Linked DNA regions of Homo sapiens. The protein of the gene in region 4 purifies or fractionates together with the protein of the main gene of each other region. This does not show direct contact. Each region holds a gene or a part of one and is shown on either strand. Other genes may lie near its edges. The genes, in order: SPG7, TTK, MTX1 and LPAR4.

Evidence for each region.
Region 1: the proteins of LPAR4 (region 4) and SPG7 purify together in Homo sapiens (affinity purification with mass spectrometry; 2 studies listed by BioGRID and IntAct, with this or other methods). This does not show direct contact.
Region 2: the proteins of LPAR4 (region 4) and TTK purify together in Homo sapiens (affinity purification with mass spectrometry; 2 studies listed by BioGRID and IntAct, with this or other methods). This does not show direct contact.
Region 3: the proteins of LPAR4 (region 4) and MTX1 purify together in Homo sapiens (affinity purification with mass spectrometry; 2 studies listed by BioGRID and IntAct, with this or other methods). This does not show direct contact.

What each region holds. Positions count from the first base shown.
Region 1 is NC_000016.10:89,511,403-89,518,451, reverse strand, and holds part of SPG7 (mitochondrial inner membrane m-AAA protease component paraplegin isoform 1 precursor), read right to left. Parts: intron 5,505-7,049; coding exon 5,415-5,504; intron 1-5,414. UniProt on the Homo sapiens protein: Catalytic component of the m-AAA protease, a protease that plays a key role in proteostasis of inner mitochondrial membrane proteins, and which is essential for axonal and neuron development.
Region 2 is NC_000006.12:79,999,793-80,007,650, forward strand, and holds the start of TTK (dual specificity protein kinase TTK), read left to right. Parts: upstream 1-4,856; 5' UTR 4,857-4,921; intron 4,922-6,037; exon of another isoform or gene 6,038-6,049; 5' UTR 6,050-6,051; coding exon 6,052-6,190; intron 6,191-6,312; exon of another isoform or gene 6,313-6,383; intron 6,384-7,858.
Region 3 is NC_000001.11:155,211,647-155,214,324, forward strand, and holds the end of MTX1 (metaxin-1), read left to right. Parts: intron 1-480; coding exon 481-573; intron 574-738; coding exon 739-921; intron 922-1,047; coding exon 1,048-1,124; intron 1,125-1,590; coding exon 1,591-1,745; intron 1,746-1,837; coding exon 1,838-2,052; 3' UTR 2,053-2,177; downstream 2,178-2,678. UniProt on the Homo sapiens protein: Involved in transport of proteins into the mitochondrion. Essential for embryonic development.
Region 4 is NC_000023.11:78,743,520-78,750,719, forward strand, and holds the start of LPAR4 (lysophosphatidic acid receptor 4), read left to right. Parts: upstream 1-4,200; 5' UTR 4,201-4,515; exon of another isoform or gene 4,516-4,667; intron 4,668-5,381; exon of another isoform or gene 5,382-6,654; 5' UTR 6,655-6,704; exon of another isoform or gene 6,705-7,200. UniProt on the Homo sapiens protein: Receptor for lysophosphatidic acid (LPA), a mediator of diverse cellular activities. Transduces a signal by increasing the intracellular calcium ions and by stimulating adenylyl cyclase activity.

The DNA.
Region 1 (7,049 bases), on a different chromosome or scaffold from region 4:
AGTGAGCGGAGCCTTTTTTCACTCCGTATAATTCCTTCCAGGTTCATTCGTGTTATCAGTGAGTGGTGCCTTTTTTCACTCCGTATAATTCCTTCCAGGTTCACCAGTGTTATCAGTGAGTGGTATTCCAAGCAAATACTTTTCGGGCAACCACTACTTACAATCATTCTGCACGGCTGGCAAAGCTGTTTCTAAGCCACATTCAGTATCGTTCTTTCATTTAAGGAGGTGGCAAAAGAATCTTCATCTGAACAGACGCCATGCAGTTCAGCATCAGACCAGGGAGAAGGCCTGCCTGAGGGCCGGGACTGTGTTGTGCCTGTCTGATCAAGTCAGCAGTCCTGAAAATCCACACAAACCAACTCCCGCCGAAACCACAGCAGAGGGCCCAGGGGAAACCCAGAATAGGTTCTCACAAGAAAGATTATTTGGCTCAGTAAACAATTATCCTCTAACGCAAATTTAACAGACATTATTTTCTCCAAGCAAACTATAGTTCAACCCAAAACAGAATAAACATAAAACAATCACTTGGCCGGGCGTGGTGGCTCACGCCTATAATCCCAGCACTTTGGGAGGCCGAGGTGGGCAGACCACAACGTCAGGAGATCGAGATCATCCTAGCTCACATGGTGAAACTCCGTCTCTACTAAAAACACAAAAAATTAGCCGGGCATGGTTGCGGGCACCTTTAGTCCCAGTTACTCGGGAGGCTGAGGCAGGAGAACTGCTTGAACCCACGAGGTGGAGTTTGCAATGAGCCGAGATCGTGGCATTGCACTCCAACTTCGGCAACAAGAGCGAAGCTCCATCTCAAAAAAAAAAAAAAAAAAAAGACGACGACAATTACTCAGATGCAGGAGAGACACGCATGTCAGCTACACGCAGCCTCATCCATAAGCAGATGCAGGGCCCAGGAGAGCAAAGGGCATGGTGACTGCCTGCCCTTCCTCACGCCAGGGCACCTGCCAATGCAGCAACGACTAGGATTTCACTGGACAAGCACCTACCACATGCCAGGAGTGATAACCAGGAAGCTGCCATGGCTTTGCCTTGCCATGGCAACGGAGGCTGCCATGCCATTCCTTCCAGGAACCATGACAACGGAGGCTGCCATGCCATTCCTTCCAGGAACCATGACAACGGAGGCTGCCATGCCATTCCCTCCAGGAACCATGACAACGGAGGCTGCCATGCCATTCCTTCCAGGAATCAGAGTTATTAGTGGGGCACACGTCCCTGGTTAACCGTAACACAACACACAAGGCTGAATGCAGAATCCGCACAGGCCACACAATTCTTCCCTCTTCTATGACAGGTGACCCTTCAGCAACACAGGAGTGAGCTATGTATGATCACGGACACGTGGATTTTCTTCCACCCCTGCTACCCAAGACAACAAGACCAGCCCCTCGTCCTCCTCCTCAGCCCACTCAAGGTGAAGGCCATGAGGATGAAGCTCTTTATGGTGATCCGCTTCCACTGCATAAATAGGAAATATATTTTCTCTTACGACTTTTTTCTTTTTTCTTTTTTTTTGAGACAAGAGTCTCGCCGTCGCTTTTTTCTTTCTTAATTTTTTTTTTTGAGACAGAGTCTTGCTGTGTCGCCCAGGCTGGAGTGCAGTGGCGCGATCTCGGCTCACTGCAAGCTTCGCCTCTTGGGTTCACGCCATTCTCCTGCCTCAGCCTCCCGACTAGCTGGGGTTACAGGTGCCCACCACCACGCCTAATTTTTTTTTTTTTTTGTATTTTTAGTAGAGACAGGGTTTCACCGTGTTAGCTAAAATGGTCTCGATCTCCTGACCTTGTGATCTGCTCGCCTTGGCCTCCCAAAGTGCTGGGATGACAGGCATGAGCCACCACGCCCGGCCTTTTCTTTCTTAATTTTTTATGTTTGAGACAGAAAGGTCTCACTCTATTATCCAGGCTGAAGTGCAATGGCACAATCTCAGCTCCCTGCAACCTCTGCCTACCAGGTTCAAACGATGCTCACGCCTCAGACTCCGGAGTAGCTGGGATTACAAGCACGTACACCACACCTGGCTAATTTTTTTTTTTTTTGGTATTTTTAGTAGACAAGGGGTTTCACCATGTTAGCCAGGCTGGTCTCGAACTCCTGGCCCCAAGTGATCTAACTTTCTTCTTTTATTAAAAAAACGAACGGCCGGGCGTGGTGGCTCACACCTGTAATCCCAGCACTTTCGGAGACCAAGGCGAGTGGATCACCTGAGGTGAGAAGTTTGAGACTAGCCTGACCAACGTGGCCAAACCAGGTCTCTACCAAAACTACAAAAATTAGCTGGGCTTGGTGTTGCATGCCTGTGATCCCAGCTATTCGTGAGGTTGAGGCAGGAGAATCACTGGAACCCAGGAGGCAGAGGTTCCAGTGATCTGAAATTACGCCATTGCACTCTAGCCTGGGAAACAAGAGTGAAACTCCAGGCTGGGCACGGTGGCTCACACCTGTAATCCCAGCACTTTGGAAGGCCAAGATGGGCAGATCGCCTGACATCGGGAGTTTGAGACCATCCTTGCCAACATGGTGAAACCCTGTCTCTGCTAAAAATACAAAAAATTAGCTGGGCGTGGTGGCGCACGCCTGTAGTCCCAGCTACTCGAGAGGCTGAGGCAGGAGAATCGCCTGAACCCAGGAAGCAGAGGTTGCAGTGAGCCGAGATCGTGCCATTGCACTCTAGCCTGGCGACAGAGCGAGACCCCATCTCAAAAAAAAAAATAATAATAATAATAGTAATAATAATAATAGAAATGAGGGTCTTAAACTCCTGGGCTCAAGTGATCATCCCACCTTGGCCTCCCAAAGTGCTCAGATTACAGGTGTGAGCCACCGCACCTACCCAGCAAATTTTTTTTTATAAAAAGGTCAGCCGGGCGTGGTGGCTCACACCTGTAATCCCAGCACTTTGGGAGGCCGAAGTGGGGAGATCACGAGGTCAGGAGTTCAAGACCAGTCTGGCCAACATGGCAAAACCCTGTATCTACTGAAAATACAAAAATTAGCTGGGCATGGTGGTGCATGCCTGTAATCCCAGCTACTCAGGAGGCTGAGGCAGGAGAATCGCTTGAACTCAGGAGGCAGGGGTTGCACTGAGCCGACATCGCACCACTGGACTCCAGTCTGGGCAACAGAGCGAGACTCCGTTTCAAAAATAAATAAATAAATACAAAATAAAAGTTAAAAAAAAAAAAGGTCCAGGGCTGGGTGCGGTGGCCCACTCCTGTAATCCCAGCACTTTGGGAGGCTGAGGCACGCAGATCACGAGGTCAGGAGATTGAGACCATCCTGGCTAACACGGTGAAACCGAGTCTCTACTAAAAATACAAAAAATGAGCCGGGTATGGTGGCGGGCACCTGTAGTCCCAGCTACTCGGGAGGCTAAGGCAGGAGAATGGCGTGAACCTGGGAGACGGAGCTTGCAGTGAGCTGAGATCACACCACTGCACTCCAGCCCAGGCGACAGAGCGAGACTCCGTCTCAAAAAAAAAAAAAAAAAAAGGTCAAGGCCAGGCACGGTGGTTCACACCTGTAATCTCAGCACTTTGGGAGGCCAAGGTGGGTGAATCACCTGAGGTCAGGAGTTTGAGACCAGCCTGGCCAACAAGACAAAACCTCATCTCTACTATACAAAAAGAGGGCCTGACGCGGTGGCTCACGCCTGTAATCCTAGAACTTTGGGAGGCCAAGGTGAGCAGATCACAAGGTCAGGAGATCGAGACCATCCTGGCTAACATGGTGAAACCCAGTCTCTAATAAAACAAAAAAATTAGCCGGGTGCGGTGGCGGGTGCCTGTAGTCCCAGCTACTAGGGAGGCTGAGGCAGGAGAATGGCATGAACCCAGGAAGTGGAGCTTGCAGTGAGCCGAGATTGTGCCACTGCACTCCAGCCTGGGCGACAGAGCGAGACTCCGTCTCAAAAACAAACAAACGAACAAAAAACAAAAAATTAGCAGGGTGTGGTGGTGAGCACCTGTAATCCCAGCTACTTCGGAGGCTGAGGCAGGAGAATTGCTTGAACCCGGGAGGGGGAGGTTGCATTGAGCTGAGATCGCACCACTGCACTCCAGCCGGGGCAACAGAGTGAGATTCTGGCAAAAAAAAAAAAAAAAAAAAAAAAAAAAAAAAGTCAAAGGACACACTTTATTGAAATGTTGAAGTATACAGGGAAAGAGCCCTGAAATCAATTCAGAACAATTTTGTATGAAGATTCAGAAGTCTTTTAGAAGATAGTTCTGAGTGGCTGTAAGCATTGACACTTACCGTAAAACCAACAGTAAGCTGAAGATGAGCCTAAAGCCAGAAACGCCTAAACTGAATCCACCTGCGAAACACTGGTGTCCCTTCCCGCAGTTATGACCTCCCCTCGAGAGCTCAGTAGGGAGAGTCAGAGCTCCTCTCTCACAGAGTAAAGCTGTCCCTGGCCTTGGCAAATGCAGCGTCTCACACAAAATCAATCAAGAAGGACGTCACTCCTGAAACAAACTCCTGCTAAACTCGAATTCACAATAATAATCCCCTCATCCAATAGCTGAACCATCATTTCCACATCCTGAAAGCTTTCCTGAAAAGCAACATGGGAAGAAAAAGTCCTTATGACAGTTCCTCACTCGCCTTCCAAGGCCAGGTGCCTTTCTAGAAAGATGAGCTCTGCTGAGCAGGGCGTCCATCTTAACAACGCTGATTTCCAGCGAGAGGCCTCAAGGATCCAAAAGCAAAGCATTCCTGAAGCTGAGTTCAACCCTTCTGCCCCCTGGGGCTGTGAGTCTGAAGCTGAGCCTCCAACTCCTGGGCTCAAGCTCCTCCAACTCCTGAGCTATGACTACAGGTGCACACCACCACGCCTGGCCAATTATTTTCTTCTTTTCTTTCTGTATAGATAGGGTCTTTTTAAATTTAAATTTAAATTTTTTTTTTTTTGAGATGGAGTTTTGCTCTTGTTGCTCAGGCTGGAGTGCAATGGCATGATCTCCACTCACAGCAACCTCCACCTCCCAGGTTCAAGCAATTCTCCTGCCTCAGCCTCCCGAGTAGCTGGGATTACAGGCGTGTGCCATCACGCCCGGCTAATTTTCTATTTTTAGTAAAGACGGGGTTTCACCATGTTGGCCAGGGTGCAGGTGATCCGCCTGCCTCAGCCTCCCAAAGTGCTGGGATTACAGGTGTGAGCCACCACGCCCAGCCTTTTAATTTGCAGTGAGACAGGGTCTCGCTATGTGGTATAGGCCTCAAGTGATCCTTCCACCTGGGCCTCCCAAAGCGTTTCGATTACAAGTGTGAGCCACTGCACCCGGCCCATCTCCCCATTTTCCAGACTGGTTTCACCTTGCTAAAAGGAAAACAGAAATGTAAAGACATCCAGAGGCAGCTACTGACTGAAGAACATCAGATGAATATACCTTCGTCCTCTTCAGGCGCCTTCCCCTTCGACTTATCCTTCTCCTTATTCTTCTGCTTCAACCTTGAGGTGTTAAAATAGAAAGTACCACCTATGAGAAATAGAGAAAGGATTTAACAATTAAGTTTTGCAACCACAGGGGAGGCATACAGGACAACAGTGTACTCCTAAATAACCAAAGCAAAACAAAAACCATCTGAAAAACCTACTTATATCCATAAGATTTATAAATATGAAATAAAGCATATCCTATATCACTTAGTCCAGTATTTCCTAATTACAAAATAATAAACTATTTTAACTTACGTTAAATATCTTTGCTACTTAAATTGCTAATGTGAGGGAATAAAAAATAGTTATGAACACAAATTTGGGAAAATATCACGAATCCCTTTAATATATGAAGTTGCTTTAAAAGAACTTAAACACGCCAGGCGTGGTGGCTCATGCCTGTAATCCCAGCACTTTGGGAGACCGAGGCAGGTGGTTCACGAGGTCAGGAGTTCAAGACCAGACTGGCTGAGATGGTGAAACACTGTCTCCACTAAAAATACAAAAATTAGCCGGACGTGTTGGCAGGCGCTTGTAATCCCAGCTACTTGGGAGGCTGAGGCAGAATTGCTTGAACCCGGGAGGCGGAGGTTGCAGTGAGCTGAGATCACACCACTGCACTCCAGCCTGGTTTACAGAGCAAGACTCCGACTCACAAATGGTTTCCAGACAAGTGGCAACAGCAGCAGCCCAGCCACCACCAAGAGGGGCCGGCACGACACTCCTCACACAGAGCTGTCTCAAAATCTGAACAAATCAGCGTTTACAAATGGGGGAGGCCAGGTGCAGTGGCGCACGCCTGTAATCCCAGCACTTTGGGAGGCCGAGTCGGGTGGATCACGAGGTCAGGAGATCGAGACCATCCTGGCTAACATGGTGAAACCCCGTCTCTACTAAAAATACAAAAAATTAGCCGGGCATAGTGGCGGGCACCTGTAATCCCAGCTACTTGGGAGGCTGAGGCAGGAGAATGGCGGGAATCCTGGAGGCAGAGCTTGCAGTGAGCGGAGATCGCGCCACTGCACTCCAGCCTGGGAGACAGAGCAAGACTCCGTCTCAAAAAAATAATAATAAACAACAACAACAACAACAACACAAAAATGTAGCTGTACGTGGTGACACATGCCTGACTTCCCAGCTACTCAGGACGCTGAGTGGGAGGAGAACCTGGGCCCAGGAGGTTGAAGCTGCAGTGAGTAGAGATTGCACCTGGGCAACAGGGCAAGACCCTATCTCAAATAATAATAAAAAATAATAAAAATAGGGAAAGAGTTTCACAACCATGACCTGAAATGTAACTTTCTTCACAAAGACATGAACGGGTTCACCAGTGAAACGGCCCCGGTTGCCACTTGCATGTCACCTCAGGCTTAAGGAGGCTGAAGCATGTGCTTCCTGTTTCACAGCCACAGGCACCCGTGAGCTGACGTTAAACACTGACAGCAGATGAGCCAGTTGCTGATGCACGGCCAGTGGGCACGGCACTCTCCCTACCCATGTGTTGGCACAAAGCTGTTTAATGTTAGTTAGGAGTAGAAATATTTTACTTTTTCCCTGTTCCAACTCCATAAAGGGGAGCGTGAAA
Region 2 (7,858 bases), on a different chromosome or scaffold from region 4:
TCTAGAGATCTTTGCTTCCAAACAGTTCGGTAATTGATCCCAGAAGGGGTCTAAAATTCTAAAATCTACATTGAGATTATAGAGATTAATAGCTTCCAAATTCTACCTTTTCCAAAAAGGTAACACTTGTCCATCCATTTCTGGCTTTCTATCATTGCTTCTACTTATTATGACTTTTCAGAGATTGCCAGCAATGTTTCTGGGATTATATTTGCACGTTTTTTTTCAATATCCTGCTTATTTTCTTCAGGATATTGTGGTATATTAACCAACTACGTGAGGCTCTCTCTATATAGCAGAGACTGAAAATGTATGGAGATATATATATATATATATATATATATTTTTTTTTTTTTTTTTTTTGAGACAGAGTTTCGCCCTTATTGCCCAGGCTGGAGTGCAATGGCGAGATCTTGGCTCACCACAACCTCTGCCTCCCAGTTTCAAGTGATTCTCCTGCCTCAGCCTTCCGTGTAGCTGGGATTACAGGCATGCACCAGCACGCCTGGCTAATTTTGTATTTTTAGTAGAGACGGGGTTTCTCCATGTTGGTCAGGCTGGTCTCGAACTCCTGACCTCAGGTGATCTGCCCCGCCTCAGCCTCCCAAAGTGCTAGGATTACAGGCATGAGCCACTGCACCCAACCTGGATACATTTAAAAAAAAATTATGGCCAGGTGTGATGGTAATCACAGACCATCACAATGCTTCCCTGCACTTTGGGAGGCCGAGGCAGGTGCATTGCTTGAGCTCAGGAGTTTGAGACCAGCCTGGGCAACATGGCAAAACCCTGTCTCTACAAAAAATACAACAATTAGTCGGGTGTTGTGGCATGAACCTGTAGTACTAGTTACTTGGGAGTCTCAGGTGGAAGGATGGCTTGAGCTCAGGAGGTAGAAGTTGCAGTGAACCAAGATCACACCACTGCACTCCAGCCTGGGTGACAAAGCCAGAGCCTATCTCTCTCTCTCACACACACACACACACACACATACATACACACACACTTCATTTGTGTCAGAGAGTTTGGATGGAATTTAAATGTCTTTCTTATATAGCCTGTCCTGTATTTATTTTTAAGATTGTCAGTCTGACTGCTATTCTTCATATTGGAGAAAAAAGAAAAATAGGAACTGAGAATCCTACTTTTCTTCTGCTGTTTGTTAGCATAGTTTATTGCCTGCATGATTAAATAATACCTGATGTCCAAGTAGTGGTCCTAACTCGTCACTGCTGTTTTCCTTTGTAGAACATAATCTAAGCTGTCATTGCTGTTTTTCTTTGTGATCTATGAGGTACGTTGGTACCTCTCCTTGGCATTATTTTCTTTTCTTTTGGGTATGGCTTGGTCCATTCTGTGATAGTTAGCTTTCCTGACAGTATTCATACAGGTCTCAACATTCTTATGGGCTCACGTCACTCCTAAATGCACTAAAATCAGCATACACTAGTAATGTTTTATCCAGAATAAACCACCATAAAGCAGCACACAACTGATTGCATGCTGTAAGAACTGGATTTATTATTGATCAGAAATTTAACTTTTGTATATGCACAAAATAAATTCATGTATAATAATTAGTTTCTAAAATCAAAGTTTGGGCCTTACTGAGCTTGTGTAACAATGACCTCAATAATTGAAAAAAAAATTCCTTGGAGGGGATTTAAATAAATAAGTAAATAAATAATGGAATAAAAAAGGCAGCTGTGCTGACAGAGAAGTCAAAGATCAGCAAAAAAGTTTCATGATGATAATGACAAAGTTAAACATTCGAAACTTTTGTTTATGTGACAAAAATGTGAAACTTACCATCTTACAATAAGTCATAATCTTATGGCTAATTTTATTGCTTTGTGAAAGGCTTGACTCTGAAAATGAACAAGTTTATTCACTGTCAGATGCAGCTGATTTAAAGCCAAATGAGAAACTGTGATGCAAGAAGTATACAAATGTGTTAAATAAAATAGGATTCTTAAATACTCTAATGGTTGTAAATATTAGTATTTAGCTAACATTTATTAAGTGCCTACAAATGTACCAGGCACTGTTCTAAGCACTAAGGATGCTGTAATGAACAAAGTAGACAAAAATTCCTGTATTATGGAGTTTACATTCTAGTGGGGGTAAAGTTTGGAGAGTCAGAAAATAAACAAGATAAATAAATAGGTCAAATAGGTAAAACTGTAGGATTTTACAGATCACCGCTGTCCAGTGGAAACACAATGTAAGCTATATATGTAATTTTCAATTTCCTACTAGCCATATTAAAGTATAAAAAGAAACAGGTGAAATTAAATTTTCATAAACTTTTTATTTTTGAATAATTTTTAATTTACAAAAAAATTCCAAGTGTATTAAATAGTACAGTGAATTGCTGTATACTGTTCATTGTTTTTCTGTTAAGATCTCGCATTACTGTGATGCATTTTTCAAAACCAAGAAACCAACATTAGTGCATTTTCATTAACTAAACCTCAGACTTTATTTGAATTTTACTAATTTTTCAATTAATGTCATCCTCCTGTTTCAGGATCCAGTTTATGATATCACAGTGCATTTAGTTGTCATGTCTTCTTAGTCTCCTCTGTGATGGGGTGGTATTAATTTTAATAATATATTTTATTTAACTCAATATAGCAAAAATATCATTTTAACCTGTAATTGATATTTTTAAAATTATCAATGTTTATTACTTTTTCTTATTCAGTCTTCAAAATCCAGAGTGTATTTTATACTTAACAGTACATCACATTTCATACTCAGACACTTTCACTGGAAATACTTCATCTGCATTTGGTTCTCACAAAATTTACAGTTGAAAAAGTAGGTTCATATACTTACATTGTTCCAAGTATACTTAAAAGTCTTCCAATAAATTCATGACTAATGCAAGTTTAGAAAAAAGAAAGCAAAAAAAATTACTTTAAATAGTTTAAAAATAATCCCATTAGATATCAGTTTTCAAATTTAAATATAAATTTAATTAATCAATTAAGGTTAATTGATTTAAAAATTCAGTTCCCAGTTGCACTAGACATACTCAAGTGCTCAATAGTCACAGACCATCACAAGGACTTTTGATTTTATTCCGAGCTAGAAAGGGAGCACTGAAGGGTTTTGAGCAAAGTAGTGACATAATCTGATTTAAGATGACTTTGCTATGTCAGAGAATAAATTGAGGTGAGGCAAGGGCAGAAGCAGGGAGACCAGCCAGGAGGCTACTGCAGGTAACATCAGTTAAGTGATGCAGATGCCTTGGACTGAAGTGGTGGCAGTGGAGGTGGGGAGAACTGGTAGGAGTCCAGGAATCTCTTGTGCCAGCCCTGACTCAATCTGCTTATGAGTTAGATAAGGGATCAGGGATGACACAAAGGTTTTGGGGCTAAAAAATTTAAGACAATGAATTTGTCTTTTATAGATTTTGTAAAAAAAACAGGTTTGGGTAGGAAGATCAGGGGCTTGGTTTTGGACATTTTGAGTTCAAGATGCGTATGAGACATGTAAGTGAAGATGTTAATAAGTAGGCAGTGGATATCTGAGTATGGAGTTGAGGAGAGCTCAGCTAATGATACACATTTGGGAGCCATCAACATATAGATGGTATTTAAAAATAGAAGACTGAAGGAGACCACCAAACGAGAGTACAGAAAGAAGTGTTAGGGTGAGGTCATCCAGCAACAGTATTTTAAGGAAAATGCAAGCTTTGTGATCAGGCCGCAAACAGATCAACGAGAATTGGAGGAATAATAAACTCTTTCCAGGCAGAAGCATTAGATGCAATGGTGCAAAGGTAAGTGATTAGCCAACCATGGTATAGCAAGTCATTTTGCTCTGCTGAAGCAGAAATACTAGCTAGCTGACACAGAAAGATGCATTAAGTGATTGAGAAGGGCTCTCACGCTAGCTGGGTGGCTATCCAGAGCTGGGAATGTGAGGGTTCTAAGGATAGCTTTGGAGTTAACAAGTGACAGCTGCAGTTAGTTTCCTATACATACACAAAACCAACCCGTCCTACCACAGAATATATGTCATAATGCTGGCACAACAGACACATCCCTTTTAGTTTTGCAGACGAGGAGTAACCGTTGCCCTGGACCACAAAGCCACTTAGCGGCAGAGCCTCGCACCCGCGAAGATTATTACTAGGGAGATGTTTTTACCCCTGAGGACACCTGAGCCCTTAAGTGGGGCAGGCTTCGAGGGAGGGGGGCCGATAAGGCGACTTCAGACAGGGCAATCACGATGGGCGCTTGAGTTCTGCGCAGAATTTTGACAAGGGGGAGGGTCTTGGCTTGAAGACAGAGCGTGGAGTCATTTAAGGATAATGGAAGGGCATAAGCAGAAGCTCAAGGATAAAAAGCACTGAAATTCTTGAGCTGGCGGCAGGGCTGAACGTAGCTCAGTGAAAGATCCTTTCTTGCCACATCCTCTCTAAGCCAGGCTGTGAGAACCGCGGGAAACGAAGGAGAAGGGTGGCGGTGGGGTCAGTAAAGGGCCGGCCCAAGGTGCATCTTTTAGGTCCTGATGCTAGGAGCAGCCGTCCCTGCCCCTATATTCCTCTCACTGGGTAGGTTTGCTCGGGAGTGGCTACCTCCCAGGCAAAAATTCGGCCTGGTTAAACTGGAAAGACCAGGAAAGCCCGCCCACGGGCGTCCGGGGAACGCCTGCAAAGTGCCAGCACCCTACCAACCCAGGCGCCGCACGGGTGGGGTCGCGGCCGCAGGCTCTTCCGGGGCGGGCCTAGCCTGACGCAGGAGGAGGGGCGGCCCCCGTCGCACAAGAACCAATCACGACTGTCGCTTCTACGTGGCTAGCATTGACCAATAGGAGACCGTAGTGATAGCGACGGGGAAATTCAAACGTGTTTGCGGAAAGGAGTTTGGGTTCCATCTTTTCATTTCCCCAGCGCAGCTTTCTGTAGGTAAGTTCTGTCTTACCGGTGCACCGGCGCACTGAGGAACAGCCGCAGCCGGTGTAGGGGCTCATTGTTAGCGCTGGTCGGTGAGGGGTGGGGCGAGGTGGGGGCAGCTCGGAGCCAGGTATGCGACGCGGCTAAACGAGCTGGAGGGGGAGGGGATGTCTCACTGCCTCAGCGGGTCTGGCCGGTGGGGTGATGCAGGAGGTTTTGTTGAGGAAGTAAGAAGTGGGTGTGGCCCACGCTGGAAAGAAGGGGTGGTGGGGTACCTGCGCACAAGATCGTTTTCCAAAGGACAGTCTCTCTTGTTTTGGGGGTTAGAACTGGGAAAGAAGCGGGTGGCCGTGATCTGACAGTTATCTTTCAAACCTGACTTAAGAGGTGGAGTGATACCTTGCTGCAACTTTATGACTTTTTTTCATTGTTAAACCTGAAGACGGGGCAGCATTGTTATCAGTGACACTGAGTTGGTGTTTGAGAGTCACAAAGATACGATTAACAATAAGACTGCAGACACTTTATTGAACAAACACCACCACCATGCAGATAAGCAAGTGCTCAGTACCAGTACAATAGTTTCTTAGTGTTAGATTAAGGTAGCAAATCGTGATTCTGCTAGATATGCACAAGAATAAATCTGCGGATTTCCTAATTATCAGTAAAGCCCCATCATGTTTATATTCTGCTTTGAAAGCACTTGCACTGGAAGATTTACTCAAGTAAAGCAGGCGAATAAAGGAATTGTTATTCCCATTGCCAAACGAATTCTTTATGTCTATGTCACTACCAGAATCCAAGCAATCTTTATGTGTATGTCGCTACCAAAATCCAAGCAAACACTCTATCATATTTTTTTTAAGTGACACTAAATTTGCAGATTTCTACAGTGTGACGTCATTGATGTTATATTGGGGGAAAAAGTATACTTGGCCTATGAAACCTTGGTGAATAAATTACAAAGATGTGTACCTTGTTGTTGTGCACTTACCTCCATTAATACTAGCCTAATAATAGCTGCATTTAGATGTGTTCACAAAACGAATGCTTTAGTCGTCTGGGTTCTAAAAAGCTAGTGCATTTTTTTCTTTGATGCTAGTTAAAGTAGGAGTTATGACTGTTCAGTTTTTTTCTTAGAAATGGAATCCGAGGATTTAAGTGGCAGAGAATTGACAATTGATTCCATAATGAACAAAGTGAGAGACATTAAAAATAAGTTTAAAAATGAAGACCTTACTGATGAACTAAGCTTGAATAAAATTTCTGCTGATACTACAGGTGAGTTTTTCTTTTCTTTTAAGTTAGTAACTGTTTGTTGGGTATCCTCTAAGGTAAAGATATAGTACTAATCACTTTATTTATAATTTACTCATGTGTTTATTGTCTTTCTCCTCCATTAGAATGCAGGCTACATGATGGCAGGGTTTTTGTCTGTTATATCCACAGAACTTTGAATGGTGTCTGGCACATGGTAGGTAGGCACTTAAACATTTATTGAACAATGATTAATGGGTGAAAATGCCCAGAGTTTAATACTCTAGCTCTTCTAAAAGTATTAGCTCAGAAGCCTGATTCTTTACTGTATTTCAAATGGTTGGTCATTTGAATGGTGACCTTTGGATAATTTTCTTACATCTATACTAACCTTTAAATAGATGAGGAATTGAAAATAAATGGAAGAACCTGTGATCTAATCATGGTGGCTGACTGTTCACTTTGAAAAAACCTAGAAAATGATAGTTTTAGTGTTAAGCAAAATCTTAATGGAGTATAATTGTGCTTAATTATGTCACTAACAAAGGTTGTACATCAAGGCAATTGAGTATTTTAAGTACTGAGGAAGATTCAAAGATGCTTAAAACCATAGTTTCTTTCTAGATGAGAATTTATATATTCACTATGCTACATTGTAATGCATGCTGGGCATCATAGGAATACTAGCATGATAAAACACAAATGTTTTATTTGTTGATTAGAGGAAGAATAGGGTACTCAGGCATGAGGAATGCATCTGCAAAGCCACAGATGGCAATGTGTGTTTTTTAGACATTTCACAGACTAATTTCTTAGGAAAGCAATAGGAGGTAAAAATAGAAAATTAAGGTCAGACCAAATTAAATTTAAAACGACAAAGCAAAGTTATGCATGCACTATATTTTAGTAGAAAGTAGAAACAAATTTTATTTATAAAAGTAAAGATGTAGGCTTTGTTGAAAGTGACTGAAGTTAATAGAAGGAATAATAGCTTCTCTGGAAATCTGAATTTAATATTGCTTAGTAATAACCAAAATATCCTGAACAGAAGACTGACATTCAAGTTATCTTTTTAAAAAACTAACACTGAAGAAAGTAAAAAGTACATTTCAGTGTGAACATTTTGTCTGAAGGTTATTCTTGCTGTTTCTGTTGGTTGGGGTTCCACAGAGAGAAACCTGACAGTCACAAGAGGTCCTATAAATTCCAAAGGTCTAGACCACGGTAACTATGAGTTTGTTGGACCAAGAAATTATCAGGGCCTCTAGCAGAAATTTAGGTTACTTGGAGAGAAGAAAATGATTGTCTCATTTGTTTATTTTTTGTAAAGCTGGTTTGGTTTTACAAGTAAGTATGAGGTATACAGAGATAATGTTGAATGGTTAAGGTTGTAAAGAAGGTTATGTTAGGACTGGAGCAGTAGGTTTAATGAATAAATCATTGATGGGAGAATTTTCTAAGTTAATTAGTACAAGTGGCAGTGGGAGAGATTTAGTTTTCTATGGATAGGTAGGATGCTAAAATTATAGTTATCCTGCAACAGCATAAAATTTTCTTAAACTACATACAATTTTTAAAGGCTACTTACAAAAAAACTCACTTATTTCCAAATGTTTTCTTTCCTTCAAAATATATAGCTTTTGGATAAAGTATACCTTCATAAAAGATAAATACACGATAAATAAGTTACTT
Region 3 (2,678 bases), on a different chromosome or scaffold from region 4:
TGAGGGAACAAGCTGGGGGGCCCTGGGCGTGGGTTCCCTGGATCCAGGGAGTGTGAGGATGGCTTTCTCTGGTTCCTGAGGCATGGACCGAGTCCTAGCCTGCATCTGAGCTCCGTTGTGCTAGCTTTGTGGTGTCTGGGTCGGGGAAGTTACTGTTAGAAAGTTGCCGTCAGCGGGCGTTGTTCCAGCTTTCCATGGAAATTCTGGGAGCTGCTCCTAGTTTGCGGCGGAGCCTTCCTTCCTTCCCTGCATTGGGCGCTGGACCTTCACGGCCAGGAGGCTCCAAGGCCCAGGCTTTTCGCCAACAGCAACAGGCTACTGGCTGGGCCCAGGCAAGGGGGCCTTGGCAGGAAAAGTTCCTTGCTGTACCTCCACTGCACTCAGAGGCCAGTGAGGGGGGTACCAGACAGGACTCCTTCCTCCCTGGTGAAGTGCCCTTGCAGCTCCCTAGTGTCCACGCCATGGATATTTCCTCCACAGAAGTACAATGCTGATTATGATCTGTCAGCTCGGCAAGGGGCAGACACCCTGGCCTTCATGTCTCTCCTGGAGGAGAAGTTGCTCCCGGTGCTGGTGAGTGTGCCCAGACCTCCCAGCATCCATGGCCAGCCGGGGAGGGTTCGGGAACACACAGACCCACACACAGGCTCAGGAAAGCATGGGGGTCAGAAGCCCACCTTGAATCAGACAGGTGCACTGGCTCAGACCTACCTGTTTCTTCCTGCCCACCCAATCCAGGTACATACTTTTTGGATAGACACCAAGAACTACGTGGAAGTGACCCGGAAGTGGTATGCAGAGGCTATGCCCTTTCCCCTCAACTTCTTCCTGCCTGGCCGCATGCAGCGGCAGTACATGGAACGGCTACAGCTGCTGACTGGGGAGCACAGGCCTGAGGACGAGGAAGAGCTGGAGAAGGAGGTAGCTCTGAGACCGGGGGCTATTGTATGAGATGAGCCCCAAGGATGCTGGCCAGGAATGGGAGTGCTTAGGTGGGGAGGTGGCACTGTTCCCACAGCTGCAAGCCTACCTGTGTCGCCCCTACAGCTGTACCGAGAGGCTCGGGAGTGTCTGACCCTGCTCTCTCAGCGCCTGGGCTCTCAAAAGTTCTTCTTTGGAGATGCGTGAGTCTGACTCCAAGAGGGTAATGGGTGGCTTGGAAGAAGATACAGGTTCAGATGGAGCAGCTGGAGCTGGGGCTGGGGCTGGGGCTGGCTCAGGCTCTGGATAGGAGGTCCCTGGGATAGAAACTGGCCCTAGTGACAGTGTGACTGTGTGGGGGCCAGAGCCTTCTCAGAGGTACAAAAGGGTAGGGTGGGAGGGCAGCCAGGCACAGGAGGGGCCTGAAGAGCTGTGGGGCACTGAATGTGCCCTTTATGCAGCCCTGGGATAGAGCCCTATTCAGGGCCAGGCTGGCGCCACCTGGGGATCTCTCCCCATACCAGGTCTAGAACTGTGTGTCCTGTCCTTCCCTGGTGGCCGCCTGCTGCCCAGAGCCCACCTCCCAAGGCTGACTCTTCCTCCAGCTCCATCTTTACCCCTTCTACCCCAGTGGTTCTCCTCCATCCCACCCTTCTCTCTCTGCTCCAGCCCTGCCTCCTTGGACGCCTTCGTCTTCAGCTACTTGGCCCTGCTGCTGCAGGCAAAGCTGCCCAGTGGGAAGCTGCAGGTCCACCTGCGTGGGCTGCACAACCTCTGTGCCTATTGTACCCACATTCTCAGTCTCTACTTCCCCTGGGATGGAGGTAAGGGGCAGATGGGAGGGGCAGCCCTGGGGAGAGTGGGCAGGGATCCAAGAACTAGTTCTCCTAACACACCTTCCTTCCTTGACCCTCAGCTGAGGTACCACCGCAACGCCAGACACCAGCAGGCCCAGAGACTGAGGAGGAGCCATACCGGCGCCGGAACCAGATCCTATCTGTGCTGGCAGGACTGGCAGCCATGGTGGGCTACGCCTTGCTCAGCGGCATTGTCTCCATCCAGCGGGCAACGCCTGCTCGGGCCCCAGGCACCCGGACCCTGGGCATGGCTGAGGAGGATGAAGAGGAATGATTTGTCCTCACGCTCCCAAGACTGGTTTTTCTACTCTCATGCATTCCAGAGGCCCCCGTGCCTCCTCGTTGTTGGTACAGCCGGACACGGGGTGCTGCCACCCAGAATAAAGCCACTCACACTGACTGGGCTCAAACATTTTCTCCTTTAAGAGCTGCCATTTTTCCTGGCTGGTGCCATAGGAATCATCTGGGTGCCTGGGCACACCCGCTGCTGCTTTAAGGCTTCCGCCCTGATGCTGACACTGCTGCTCCACGGGCCCAGTTCTGCATCTCCAGGAAAGACAAACAGTCTCCAGTTTTGGGCCCAGCTTTCCTAGTCTCTTCTTTTCCTTACCCTCAGCCCTGATCTTGTGTTTGTACGGACAGTGAGCTCACCCTAGGCCTGGACCCAGGCCCAGTTTCCAAAGCAAGCAGCACACAGCGCATGTTCACATAAGCATGGGGGCTGGGGGGACACTGGGGCTTACTGATCTTTTTCTAGGGGCCTCCAGCCCCTGGCACCACCTAGAGGGGAAAGTGAGTCACCCAAACCATTGCCCCTGGGCTTACGTCGCTGTAAGCTCACACTGGCCCTGCTGTGCCCTCTTTAGTCACAGACAGCGTGTGAGCTGACTCTGTCCCTTT
Region 4 (7,200 bases):
TCAAAAGCTACACATTTTGTTAGCAAGGTTGGTCGACTTCTAGTGAGGAGTTTGCATCACAAAAGATAGAATCCTTATATTTGCTCATGAACAAGATGATTTGGACAGAGTTCTGAGTGTACTACCAAATGAAGGTATGATTATAACTATTAGCCTAGAAATTATCAGAATTAATGGAGGAATTATTAGCTGTGTGAGTTTGAGCAATTTACTTAAACTTTCTGTGGCTGATTTTTCTCAAGTATAAAATAGGAATAACAGTGACTACATCATGGAGTTGTGCAAATTACGTAAATAAATATATGTAAAGGACTTAGAATATTACCTGACATGTAATAATGCTGACAAAATGTTTTCTACAGTCATTATTTTTATTGTTACCTTGAAATTTTTCTAACCTATATCAAACATGCAAAGTTCCTGGGCTTTTCCCAAAGTTCTTAGGTTAAAGTGTTCATTTTCTGTAACTACCAACTCCACTTCTAGCAATGGAAACTTGTTTCCTAAGCTGGTTCAGTGAGTGAGCAGGAAAGCTCAGTTGTTTGAGAAAACACTAGGAAGTAAAGGTAATCCAGTGTTAAGGATGAGCTAAAAATCTTGTAGGGAATTTGCTTGAAAATAAATTTTACCCCCTTTCAGAGACTTAGTGTCCTAAATGAGCTGATGGGGAACCTGGCCTTGTGATCCTTTTTTCCACTGAAGCAAAAAAGAAGATTGTATAAAAAAGAAATGGCTGCAGGATCCAGGATTTTGCCTTTCTTTGTTTCCTGGAAGACTTCAATATATCCGCTAATTAGAGGTTGCAGTGAGCAGATATTGCACCACTGCACTCCAGCCTGGGCAACAGAATGAGACCCTGTCTCAGAAAAAAAAAGACATCCACTAATTAATGCAAAGTTAGTAATTAACTGGCTCCCTTTCCCTAGAACATGGTCCAGGTACTGTGTTCACTTAAAGACTATCAGAGTTACCAAAACTGTTAGCTGGAATGATACAGGCATGGTTAAAATCCTTTGGTTACATTTATACTGTTTCTAGGGAACCTGGCATAGTGCTGAACTACTTGCACTATGGGTGATTTCACCCAGTCCTTTGATATTGTTGGCAGAAAGAAAAATTAATTTGGGTTTGAAGTGTGAAGGTCCCAAGCATCTGGTTGTTCTTAATCAAATGTGTAAATTTCCAGTTGGAAGTTAGTCATATTTCAGTTACTTTCTTTTCAAACAGATAAAAAAATGAAATGCATATTCCCCCAGACAGTTCTGAATGCACTTTTTAAGCGACATATTCATTTCCTCCCCCAGTAGCATAGACATCAAAAACTCAACGAGTGTCTTTTTTTTAAAGAACATTTTGAGTTAAGTTTTACAGATATAAACTGGCTGATTGGAGAAAACCCTGGGAAGACTTTTGTTTTCCCCCTTCCACCTTACAAATGTTAGAGCAAGCAAAACTATAAGGTTTGCAGCAATAAGTGAGTTAAAGGAAAAAGGGGATGGTAGTGGATAAGCCTTAGTACTTTCTTGTTAATGGGATTTTTTTTTCTTTATTTGTGTGTATTCTTTGGCCTAAAATAATATCTTGGTGTAAATTTGTGCAAAAATGGGCAAAATGATGCATGTTTTCAGCTGATAAGTAAAAAAAGTCTAGTTGTTGCTTTGGTTGGGTAAAACAGAAGGTCAGGGAGAATAATTTTTTGCAAACACCACTATCCTTTTTGGATTAAGCAGATATTAATCCTATCCTCTTGGAGTTTACAGTTGGGAGAAATCAATGTTAATAAAATTGTCACACAAACAAATTACACAACGGTATGTAAAATTATACCAGTAAAAAATGCAATACATGAAAGGTCCATGATGCTATAGGACATATAGTATGTGGATATGACCTAAATGAGGGGTTAAGGAAGGATTCCCTGAAGGCGTGATTATTGGGATAGGATTTGAAGGGAGAATAAGGATTAAACTGGTGAAAGGAAGATTAGAGAGGGAGGAGAGTGTTCCAGGCAGAGGAAATAGCACTTAGAAATATCCATGGCATGAGTGATCCTATCTCATTCTAGGGGCTGGAAGAGGATCAATGAGGCTGAAACTCAGAAGGGAGGAAGACTGATGCTAAAAGAGCACGTGACCCAGTGACATTGTAAAAGATCTGCTACATTGGTGAGATTAATCAGCAAAGTACTTGTGTCCTTGAGGGAGAAATGAAGACAGAAGAATTGGAAAACTTATGGCTATTAATTTGAAGAGGAGAAAGGTAGTGAGCTGATCATATAGACAGACAGTGATCATGACTATAGGTTAACCCTTCAATCACTATAGTGCATTGAGTTGCTACAGTAAAGTACTCCTCTCAAAAGCTTTTCTCCTTACCCTTATTTTCCCTTTACAAACTGGTCTCCTTCTCACCTACTCTCACTTTACATCTTCTGCATTTGATCACTTTGCTCTGCCCACCTAGAAATATATCCCCTTCCATTCTTGGTTTATTTAATACTGAATCATCCACCAAAATGTGGCACAAATCCCACTTCTTCTAAGAAACCCTCCTGGCCCTATCCATGGGACTTCATCTCCATCCTCTGATCTATTACAGAACTCAATCTCCATATAACTGCCTTGGTATTTTTTTTTTCAAAATTTACCTTTGGTATCCCACTTTTTTCATGTGTCTTTGTGTCCCTACCTAGACTCTGGCATACTGCAGGGTAGAGACTGTATCTTTCGCCTGTGGACTGACAAATGCACCGAGTACTGGTCTAGGATGAGAGTTGGTAAAAGACCATTTATAAAGACACAGACAATGTCAGCAACTGACAGAAATAGACATATTTGAGATAAGCAGAGAGGGGAATAAAAAGAACAGAGATGGGCGGTGGGATGGAGAAGAGGAAGCAACAGAGAAAGTGTTTTTTTAGAGCCAGTTACAAGTAATAAGGCTAGTGTCAGCTTCACACTAACTTGTTTACTGGCCTCCACTGATAGTGAGAAGAGCCACAATAGAGCTGAACAAATAGGGAGAATAAACAAGCTTGAAACATGCCCTACTTGGGAGGCAGCTTAATTACACAAACTGAAGTTCTGAAGCAAATAGAGGATCCTCCAAGACTCCAGGGGCTCTGCTCTGCCAAGAGAAAGAAAGCACCTTATCCCTGGGCAGAGAATTTCATTCCAGAGGAGGGGGAGGGGCTGCTGTTGGTGGCTTTTGCAGTGGGTGGAGATAGAGTAGAGAAGGCTTGCAGGGGTGGGCTGGCAGAGGGGAAGGGCCAACAATGAAGTTACAGATGGATGAGTGGGTTTCTGCCACAAAATCAGATCAAGGAGAGGGAGGTGAAGAGGAAAATATAGGGAGGAAAAAAAAAAAGAATTGTGAGTGACCAAGGCAGTAAACCTGTAGATAATTAGAAAAGAAAATCTTGCCATGGGGGAGGTGGGCGGAGGTATACAGTTGCAGATAACTCTCTATTGTAAATAGATTGCATCTGTGCTATTTATTTTGTATTTTAGCAAATCTCTGAAATTTTCATGGTAATTAGACTTACTGCGAGGCAGTTACTTGAGAAGTGTAGACCCTCCTTTTGCTACAGAACACTCCCTAGTCCTTGGAAGGTGGGTGTCAGAGCTCTGGGACCCTAGTACATCTCTATCTGAGGGCACTTATCTGGCTTAAGTGAGTGTAGTATTAAAATTTACTTTATATTTTTGTGATGGTGGGAGATTGAATTTTGCACAGTGTGATAGGAATATTTTTATGGTACCTTTCATTTTTGCCTTTTCCTTGCCCCCTACTTATTATTATCAATATTGTTGTAATTATTTTAAACAAGTAGGAGCGAACATGGTATGCATAATTGAAACACTCCTCCTTGTTTGAAATGTTGTCTCCTCCTCTGCAGTCCTGCGGCAAAGACAGGCACACAGGCTTTCTCTGTGGATTAATTGGTCAGGAAAGACACTTTTTATATTGTCAAGTGGCACTTAAGCCATTAATTCTTGACTGTGAAACTGCTTTTCCTGGGCAATGCTCTTTAAGGAAAAACTTATTCAGTCCAGTGACTGGTGACTAAGGGAACGATGGAGCACAGGGAATTGGGCGGGATCTAGACTCCTAATAATGCCTCCTTAGCCAATGAAAAGCATTTCCTATTGAGACCCCCAAGAGTTCCCCTGGCCGTCGGCTCCAGCTCGGACTTCAGGCCTTTTTGTGTCCTGTTTGCTAAAGGCATGCGGGCTACAGCATTCAAGAGAGGGAGTCGTTAACAAAGGGAAAGAGATAAATGTAAATAAGCTCACATTTACAGAATGAGCGGTTTGCAGTAAAAAGCTGCGGCAGCCCAGAGTCTGCTACTTTAGGCTGGGCTAACCTTTCCCTGTAAAAAAAAAAAAAAAAAAAAAAAAAAAAAAATGGATAAAAATATGCACTTCCAAAGGGCGAGTTGCCCATTTACATGTTTATTAGCTAATTATCTACAGGCATCAGCACATTCTCTCATCTAGCACACTCTTTCTTGGGGTAAGTTTCTCTTTTAAAAAGATTTGATTTTGGCGTTTGGGGGTGGGGGATAGCATAACAAACTACAGTGGAAACACTGATGCTTTGAGAGTGTAAGGAAAGAAGTTAGACTTCAACTCTGAAGTACTGAACAAGGATCTTCGTGATGAATGGTAAAAAACGAGAATTTCCATTGTTTTGGCAATAATATTGTTTCCGTGGAAGACATACAGGATTTTCAGGCTGCTGTTTCATGTAAACACAGTTGTTCTAAAGAGCTAATTTAAAATCACAGTGTAGAACAATTTAGAAAGTATGTCGACTAGCTTTGTATTTCTTTGGTTTACAGTTTATTGTGCGCTAACGTGGCTTGTATTATGATGAGGTTTCTTCTAGTAAAACTATACATGACATGTCTTTGATGCTTAATTGATTTATGGAGAATGTGACATTTGCTATATTGAATAATTCATGAACTTGCCCATAAAGGAAGAATCATGTTTGAATGAAAAACTCTGTCATAAACTGAATTTGCAATTATATGTGAAATTAATTGCTGTTTGCCATACAAATGCATCAATGTGTCATCTTTAAACTCTCTTCTTGTAAATTTTAAATATTTTCAGTAAAAAGGTCTTATTGAGTTGCTAAATACAGTATTTCAGTTACCTTTTAAAAGGAAATTCAGCAATGTAATTTATCATTATTTCAGTGTGGAAAAGACCAGACAAATTCAAAGGTTAGAATATTTCAGAGCTTGGTGGGGTTATTCACTTTGCTACCTTACAAAATTATACCATCTTTCTTTATCTTGACTAACATAAAGACAATAATAATAACCTGAGATCCAGATTACCCAATGGCTTTGCAACACGTTTATTTTTCAGAACAAAATTCCCAACATCATATCCCATCAACATAGATTATAAAACCTTTTGCCTTGTCACAGATGAAAAGTTGCACTCTTGCCAAGAAGGATGAGTTCACCTGATAAACTTGATGGCATCTACATTCTAAAGTCTCTCCTGCCAATCAGAGATGGGAATGAAAGCCTTATTGGAACAATCAGGCCAGTCTTTCAGAATGTGTGCTCTCTGCAAGTTAAAGGGAGAACCAGGAAGATGCCTCACAGAAACATTCAGGCCAAGCTTAGCTAAAGCTTGATCTATTCAATTGCCTTTTGGGAAAATGCAGTGAGAATTGTTGCCCTTGCTGTGGTTTGTTCAGCGCCTAATTGTGTAGCTACCTTTTGTCTGTGTATATGGTCATCACATATAGTCTGCCCTTGGCCTTCTTGTTGGGGGAAGAACAAAACCTGTAATGTGTTTGCGAATATTAGTACTGAAAATTGGGAGCCCAATAAAAGGTTACCTACCACTGGGAATCCACCTTTACTTTAAGCGGATAAATAATCAGTTATCAGAACAATGTAACGGGTAAATGATCTAATGATTCTACATGGTTATGTCCTGAAATATGCCGATAACCTCATATTCTGAGGGGTGAAGTGACCAGGAAACAGGTGGGAAGGGTTGAGGGTTGAGACCTAAACAATTAGAGGTGATATGCCTGCTGAAATGAGCACAAGGACAGAGGATGAGGAAAATAAGGGAATTTGGAAGACTTTAGGATATTAGTGGCATCTTTCTCTGTGATTCTTAGCTTCCGGTATTAATTAATACTATTTATTTCTAATATTCAAATAAATCTAGCAATCATTTCATTAAGTCTAATAAAAATTAATGACCCTCCTTGCTTGCAGACTTTGAGGAAATAAAAAATGTTTTACAGTGGCCAATGTAAGCAGGTGAAAATAAATGATGGAAAAGAACAGCCAGTAAGGCCACCAGCATGGCACTCATTGAAGGTTGCTTTTCTGTCAGTCAAGACTGAAGATTAAAGGAGAAGAGAAACTGAGACTCAGAAATGGACTGTGACTTGCTCTCACAGAGCTCGTGATGGGGCTGGATGTGTCTATATTTAATTAATATCAGTTATAAAAACTTCTGGGTATTTGAACTTCCTAATTTGCTTGGATTTTGAATAAAAGGTTTTTTGTATAATCGTTATCAACTGTGAAAGGCATAAAATAATGTTAATGCTTCTGTTTTCCTTTACGATAAACCAATAAAATGGAATAAAATATTCATTTCATTCCAGGAAGACAGATTTCTGGAGGAGTGTGAAAATCAACTCTCCTTAATATTAAGGTGATCTCAATGTATCTTAAATTATCTAATCATTGTACTTATTTTGTTTTTTTAGATTATAGAAAAATCATTTCAGGAGAGTTGTAATACTATTTAGAAGTTTGCTTTGTTTTAGGCTACCTCTGTTTAGAAAAGGATGAGATGTAACAATAGTGTACGTTTGGAGCTAGGGGATGATTCTACTTTACAGATGGAAGCACTGTAATGGGTAAATTCTAAATGCGGTTGCTACTCCTAAGAATTCCATCGCAGAGTATTTCTGGTTTTATACAAATATTTTGTGCAGAGTTTGAATTGGAGATGTTACAGACATGCTATATTGGGTAGGCCTAGGACATCCTGGTAAAGGTGCAGTGATTGTCAGTCAGTGTTTGAATTGAAGCCTTGATCATATCACTGTAGTTCAGTGGAGAGAGAAATTGTGTGGGGTGTAGGTAAAAAACAAGACAGTGGAGTCTCCACCTGTTGTTCCAGTCATCTTTCCTCTTCCCTCTTC